2 separate regions of the Homo sapiens genome follow, and region 1 is reported to be linked to region 2. Evidence: microRNA targets listed by miRTarBase, many of them from high-throughput screens and not tested one by one. Region 2 holds a microRNA gene; the other region holds the end of a gene's coding sequence.

Region 1 (3,126 bases), not on the chromosome of region 2:
ACCAGAGAATGATGACCTCTAGCGGGAGGAGGGGTGCAGCCAGGACTCTGGGTGTTACAAAGCCCTGCCACATCTGTGACCTTGAACCATGTGGGGCCCTTGAGCAGGTCACGTGCCCCAGGGCCTTGGGTCTCTCCAGCAGCCACAGGCCTGATGCACAGGAACCTTCCAGGGCCCCTCTACTGGCACCCAGCCTGGCCTGCCCCGTCTCCCTTTTCTGTGATGCCTGAGTTTGTCGTGCTGGGAGGCTTACTGGGTGAGGGGACACAGGCACACATGGCAGGACTCAAAGGCCCGTGGGTCACTCGGGTGGGAGCTGGGGGCTCTGGAATCTGCCCTAATTCTTGTCTTTTCAACTCAAGCCGAGACCATGACCGGGAGGGAGCACCCTGTCCCAGTGCCTGTTCCCACCCACCCCCGCAGGAGGGATGGAAACACAGAATTCACCTCTGGGACTGGTTCTTGAGCTTTTGCCTCCCCTTTTGTCTTCTAGACCCCAAGGGCCTGCCAGGGACCCGGCGCGTCCTCGGTTTCTCGCCTGTCATCATCGACAGACATGTCAGCCGCTACCTGCTGGCCTTCCTGGCAGATGACCTAGGGGGGCTCTGACAGACCCTGGACCCAGGGCCTCACCTGCCACTCAACCAAAGAGTCCTCGAGCCGGCCCGCCAAGGGGACTGCTGCTTCTTTTTCTAAATGCATATTTTTCATTATTTATAATTTGTGTAAAAAACACACCTTCACCTTACAAGGTGCTGACCATATTAAATGTTCAGGTTCTCTCAGCCTGCCTCGTTCCTCAGTCTCAGGGGTGTTTCAGAGATGACTGCAGCTATGGCTGCTCCAGCTGGGGCTGGCCCTGGTATTCCCAGCATCCCCACATCCAGCTGCTGGCACAGACCCCCCAGACAGGACGCCCTCCACATGGACTCACCTGCCTCGGATAAGCCGCCAGGCACTGCCTCCCCACCTCAGATGTTCCCCACACTGCCCCCTCCTCACACCTCATGTGCCACACACACACACACACACACACACACACACACACACACACACACCCACTCCCCCCACCCCAGCTGCTGAGCCTGGACCGGACACCTGATTCCCTCCCCTTGTCAGCTCCTCCCCCAAGCCTTTTTGTGGGGAAACGAGAATATTTGTCAACCCACAGAATCATCATGAGTTTGCATTTTCCAGGGGGTTTCTGGAGGCACCCAGGCTTTGCCCCAGAAGGTGCTGGGAACCCCTAATGCTGGGGCGATGCCACTGGCAGGGCGAGGCTATGGGCGCAGCTCCTGGAGGGACCCTGCTCAGTCGCAGGGTCCCAGCGCACATGACAGTGGGAACCAGGCTGCCGGTGGAGTATGGAGCTCCAGGACATGACATCCCATTACCATGCAGCCCTGCTGCTTGGGTCATCACAGTGCCTGCCCCTTCAGGGAACTGAGGGCCAGGGGCAAGGAAAGCCAGTGCCTCAGAGCCCTCCCACCTGCCAGGCTGCCATGCGCCCACTGAGTGGGGTGGCCGGGGGACAGCCCTAGCTGCCCTCTCCCTCCTCCACCCTGAGCCATGGGGCCAGGGCCTGTGCTCCAGTCTCAGCCCCTTTGCCCACCTGTGAAATGGGATCCCTCCCTCGGGACTCCTCCTTGAGCCTGCGCTCTGTCACAGCACCCCCTCCCCCTCAGAAATCCTTTTAGGAATTTACCACCTTGCTACAGATGCCTTTAATGCCTGGGTAAAGGAGACACACTTAGTGAAGGTGACAGGTGTCTGGGTGAAGGGTGTAGACAGGTGTGACTTGCCCCTGGAGGGTGAAGGAGGGGTCTCCAGGGACAGTAACATTCTATGACTGCGTCAGCTGAAGGTAGGAAACCTCCGAGGCAGGCAGGGCACAGGCCAGTGTGTGGCCTGGGCAAGTCCTAGGTGGCCCCACCTGAGGCCGTGGAGGACACACGCACCTCCTCAGGGCTGCCTGACATGACCTGAGGCCCTGACTCCCCAGGCCGCTTGGGCAGGGTGTCATTCCTCAGTGAGGGGCTGCCTGGCCCGAGGACTGCTGACTCCCCTGTCCATCTGTGTGCACCCACCGCCCTCCCCCGAGGCCCATGTCAGCCAGGTCCTGAGCCCCACTGTCCTTGGACTGCCCTCCCAGCGCCCAGCTACCCCCAGCTCCATCCCTGACCAACTGGACTCAAGCCTGGGGCTGAGTCTGTGACATCCTCGACCACCAGCCAGGCCTACTCTTGCATCTGCCGCCTCCCGCCTGGTGGTTGCCCCACCCTTTGAGGCTGGAACCTGGAGGAGGGAGAATGATAAGCGCCCATGTCTGTGCCTCAGCCGCCCATCAGGCCCAGCTCTGCTAACCACCGGGCCAACCAGTTCCTGTGACCAGCAGTGAACTAGGTCCCCAGGGGAGGGGAAGGCACCCTTGGGCACGTGAGGCCCTCCTGGCTGCCCTGAGTCCCCGCTTCCACACTACACCCACAGATGGCCGTGTCCTGCGCCTCCACACCTGTGCTGCAGGTGTTCAGGCAAAAACCGTGCTGCTCCCTCGGCTTGGGACTCCTTACCAGCCCCTCTCATCAACTCATCCTTCAGGAATGCCACTTCCTCCAGGAAGCCCTCATGATACCCCAGTAAGAAGAGCAGTTTCCTCCAAGCTACCACACCTGAACATGGGATGCTGTTCTGACATCCAGAACTGTGCAGGAGCTGGTAGGAGATGCTGGGGTCGAGGGAACTCCCATTACCAAAGCTTTGGTGTGAGGGAGGGGTTGTGGGAGAGCTGGAGGTGAAATGCAGAGGGTTGTGAGGGAGAGTGAGTGAAGGAAAGAGGGGTAGTGAGGAAGGGGGTGTGGATGAGGGAGGGAGATGAAGGAAGGGGAATGAGGGGGTGTGTGAGGTAGGTGAGGAAGGAGATGAGGGAGGGGGTGAGGTAGGGGTGAGGGAGGGGGGTGAATGAGGGGTGAGGGAGGGGTGAGGGAGGGGTGAGGGAGAGGTGAGGGAGGGGTGAGGGGGGTGAAGGAGGTAGGTGAAAGGGTGTGAGGGAGAGGTGAGGGAAGGAGTTGGGGGGAGGGAGGGGTGAGAGAGGGAGTGAGGGAGAAGGTGAGGAGGGGTGAGAGAGGG
Region 2 (3,126 bases):
TAGTTGTTGGGGAAAATAATCTATAGAATTGAGAGTATTGTGATAAAGTAGTCATGTGTGCAATGAATATTAAGATTACTCTAATAGCATATATTTTAAAGAATAGCAATATGACCAAACATAACTTGAAATTTTGAAAAGCAGTTCATAAGGTTCACCCTTGGTAAATATGAATTTAATGTAGACTATCTTAGATGTTCTGTTGAGGGACATTTGAATATTACAACTGCATGTATTATAGATGAGTTAGACATAGATTACTCATTACTAAGGAGAGAGAAGAAGAAAAGGACTCTTTGAAGTGATCATATTCACACTTTGAAAAGTTCTAAGAAAAGGAATGAGGCTAATTAATTAATAAAACAACATTCCCCTCTAGATAGAAGAAAGGTGGGGGTTGGAGAAGGGGAAGGTAGGGCAGAGTTATGCTCTTAACATCCAGGTGTTTTATATGTGTTCTTCACGAGGTAACAACGTTTTTTTTCATAGTTTCAGAAGCAAGACTATTACATTATCCTTTTGTATGAAAATTGATGTTTAAAACAATAGACAAAGGCTCAGGATTTTCATTACAGCAGAGTTGTGTACAGCATTAGAAACTATTGCTGCAAGGTTTACCTGTGCTGCATTCTAACGCACACACCCTACATATGTAGTCATTTTTTAAAAACCACGATGAAGTCCGCTTGCTTAGAGCATTCAGTTCGAACTTACAGAACAAAATATGCTGCCCTATCGCCATGGTACATAGATACAAAACATGACTGAGCTGTGAAGCCATTAAAAACACACCACCAGAGCAAATTGTCAATGTAATCACACATCGACTCACTGCGTAATACAGATCTGATTCCCAGCCCCAGAAAACGAGGCCCTGCTTTAAGCAATAGCAAAGTGCCTTCCATCTGTCTGCCTATGCAATCTGCCAGAAGAAAAATGCAGGCAAAGACGTTCCCCAGATCTGAAATGCTTTTATCTGTCCTTAGAGAGAGATTTCTTCCAGTCTTTGGATACTAGAACGATCTACACTAGCACGGAGGAGGTAAAAGGCCGCGGGTTGCTTTTCCAGGAGCAGTCGGTAGTGCTAGCGGAAGAGATGTTGATTGAGAAAATAGGGATTGTTGCAATGCTGCCGCTACTGCTGCTGTCGCTGCCGCTGCTCGGGCAGCAGGCGTGGGGCAGTTGGCTGATCACTGATGCATATCAATAACCATGTACTTGAGATTTCTCATGACATCATCATTACCTTGGTCTCCCGCGGTCTCGAACCTTTGACCTTGCCGGGCTGGTCCACAATTTGGCAGTGAAAGCCCCTCCAATGATGGCCCTTTTCTCCTTCTTTCAGACCGGGGGCAGCAGCAGGCCAGCAAGACGGCATCTTCTCCTTCCCAGCCTAGAAGCCCTGTGAAATCGAGGATCTTCCCCCTAAAACACATACACACAAGATATGTGCAATCAAGCTGCCACCGCTTGGTAAAAAGCCATGGTGCCTAACCAAAAAGGATCAGGAACAGATCCTTGAATCAGCTGTCACTTCTATAGAATGGGATTTTTTTTTCCTTCCTCCTTAACCTGCGCTGGAAATTGCCGTTGGCTTTATACATCTCTATAGAGAGAGGCTAAAGAGTCTTGCGTGAGAAAGAAGCAATTTACAATGCAAATAGAGGCCTGTGAAGGGACGGATGCTGCTGCTCACTCGTAACAGCTTGCTGCACCTTAATAGCTGGTTTTATTTTCTGATATTAATAGATGAATTGTTGGCTAACGCTGCCGGAGATTACTTGCTGAAAGGAAAAAGAAAAGTTCGGAATAAACTCTGAAGGCAACAGATCTCGTTTGGATGTTTTAGCCGCGCACACACACAAACAGAAACCAGGTCATATTTACATAAAAGGAGGAATCTTAAGCGCGGCAAGTATCCTGGACGACCACTCTTCGGTACTGCCAGAAAGGATCAGGACCTGGAGTCTGGCAAGAGGAAGACAGAGGCCTGTGTGGGAAGCGAGTTGTTATCTTTGGTTATCTAGCTGTATGAGTGTATTGGTCTTCATAAAGCTAGATAACCGAAAGTAAAAACTCCTTCAAGATCGCCGGGGAGCGTGTGAGAATGAAAGACTACAGCCGAGAGACAGTAAAAACCAGAAAGGTCAGGAATACTTATTGAATCTAACTTTGTTTTTGTTTTGTTTTTTTCCTTATGATTAAAGGTGGGATGAGAGAAAATTAAATGACACACACATGCTAAAATATCAAGGTTCCAGATATGTCTTGAGAGGGGTTGTTGCAGCTGCAAAGGAGAAGTGTATAGTGATAATGAGTAAAGATGCATGTGCAGTTTGTTCTATTTTAAGGCAAAAGTTATATCAGGGATTTTTTTCTTAGAAAGGTGTTGCAGAGATGTCTGGTACCTAGTTTAAAAATGATTCCATAATATGTAGACTTGGGCAGTTCCTTTGGGAGGCACCTCCCTCTCAAAATTTGAAGATTGTGCTTGGAAATTACTTTACATGTATTTGGGCTGTATGTCAATTTGTACGAAATTAGACTTTCAGAAAAGTTTATACTGGAAGGTTAATAATTTGTATCTACTGAGGACTTAGAGCTAGCAGGCAAAATGAAAAAAAAAAAAAAAAAAGCAAGGGCTGATTTTTATTCTTCTATTCAAAATACAAGGACAGATGCTTCTCTGTTCCAAGAGGGTTTCCTTGAGGAAGCTACTGAAGCAGAAAGACATGATGGAGACGAGATCGCCTCCCCTCTTGTCAAAGTGTTAAAAAAATGTTCTGTCTTACTCTGCGCCTAGCATTGGAAATGAAAGTGACATTTACGCCACAACCCACGTGTGCGCCTCCTCTCTTTTTGTTTAAGGATGATCAGGTCTATCCAGGAAACAGCTCTGGCATCCCAAACTGAAATAATTAGGACGTATATAGACCTGACAAAAATGGAAAGGGGGTGGGGAATCTGAGGGTCTGTCTTGCCTAATTGATTCCGCTAAACGGAATGCAGGAGATGTGAACGGCAGGACGCTCCGATTCCCACGCTCGGGGGCAAGTGATAAAGCGGGGCCGGGCAGCCTATGACAGACAGCCCTGTTGGGGGGTGGGGGTATGAAAAAAACATCAA

Evidence for each region. Region 2 holds the annotated microRNA hsa-miR-9-5p (UCUUUGGUUAUCUAGCUGUAUGA, at 2,013-2,035, shown strand). A microRNA usually pairs through its seed, bases 2 to 8, with sites in the 3' UTR of a target mRNA and lowers its output. Matches are read on the target gene's strand: a 7mer-m8 pairs with bases 2 to 8, a 7mer-A1 pairs with bases 2 to 7 and ends in A, and an 8mer does both.
Region 1: miRTarBase lists CARD19 as a target of hsa-miR-9-5p. Seed matches in the 3' UTR shown: 8mer at 644-651.

What each region holds. Positions count from the first base shown.
Region 1 is chr9:93,112,499-93,115,624 of GRCh38, forward strand. It overlaps CARD19 (caspase recruitment domain family member 19), which reads left to right. Exons shown (of 6, transcript NM_032310.5): 6 at 494-785. The coding sequence ends at 609. Among named protein-coding and RNA genes, the nearest start is that of CARD19, 18 kb to the left of the region's middle. RefSeq lists enhancers at 903-1,851, 1,852-2,799.
Region 2 is chr5:88,665,811-88,668,936 of GRCh38, reverse strand. It overlaps MIR9-2 (microRNA 9-2), which reads left to right and starts at 1,998; the gene lies at 1,998-2,084. The region is part of intron 2 of MIR9-2HG (MIR9-2 host gene); the gene reads left to right.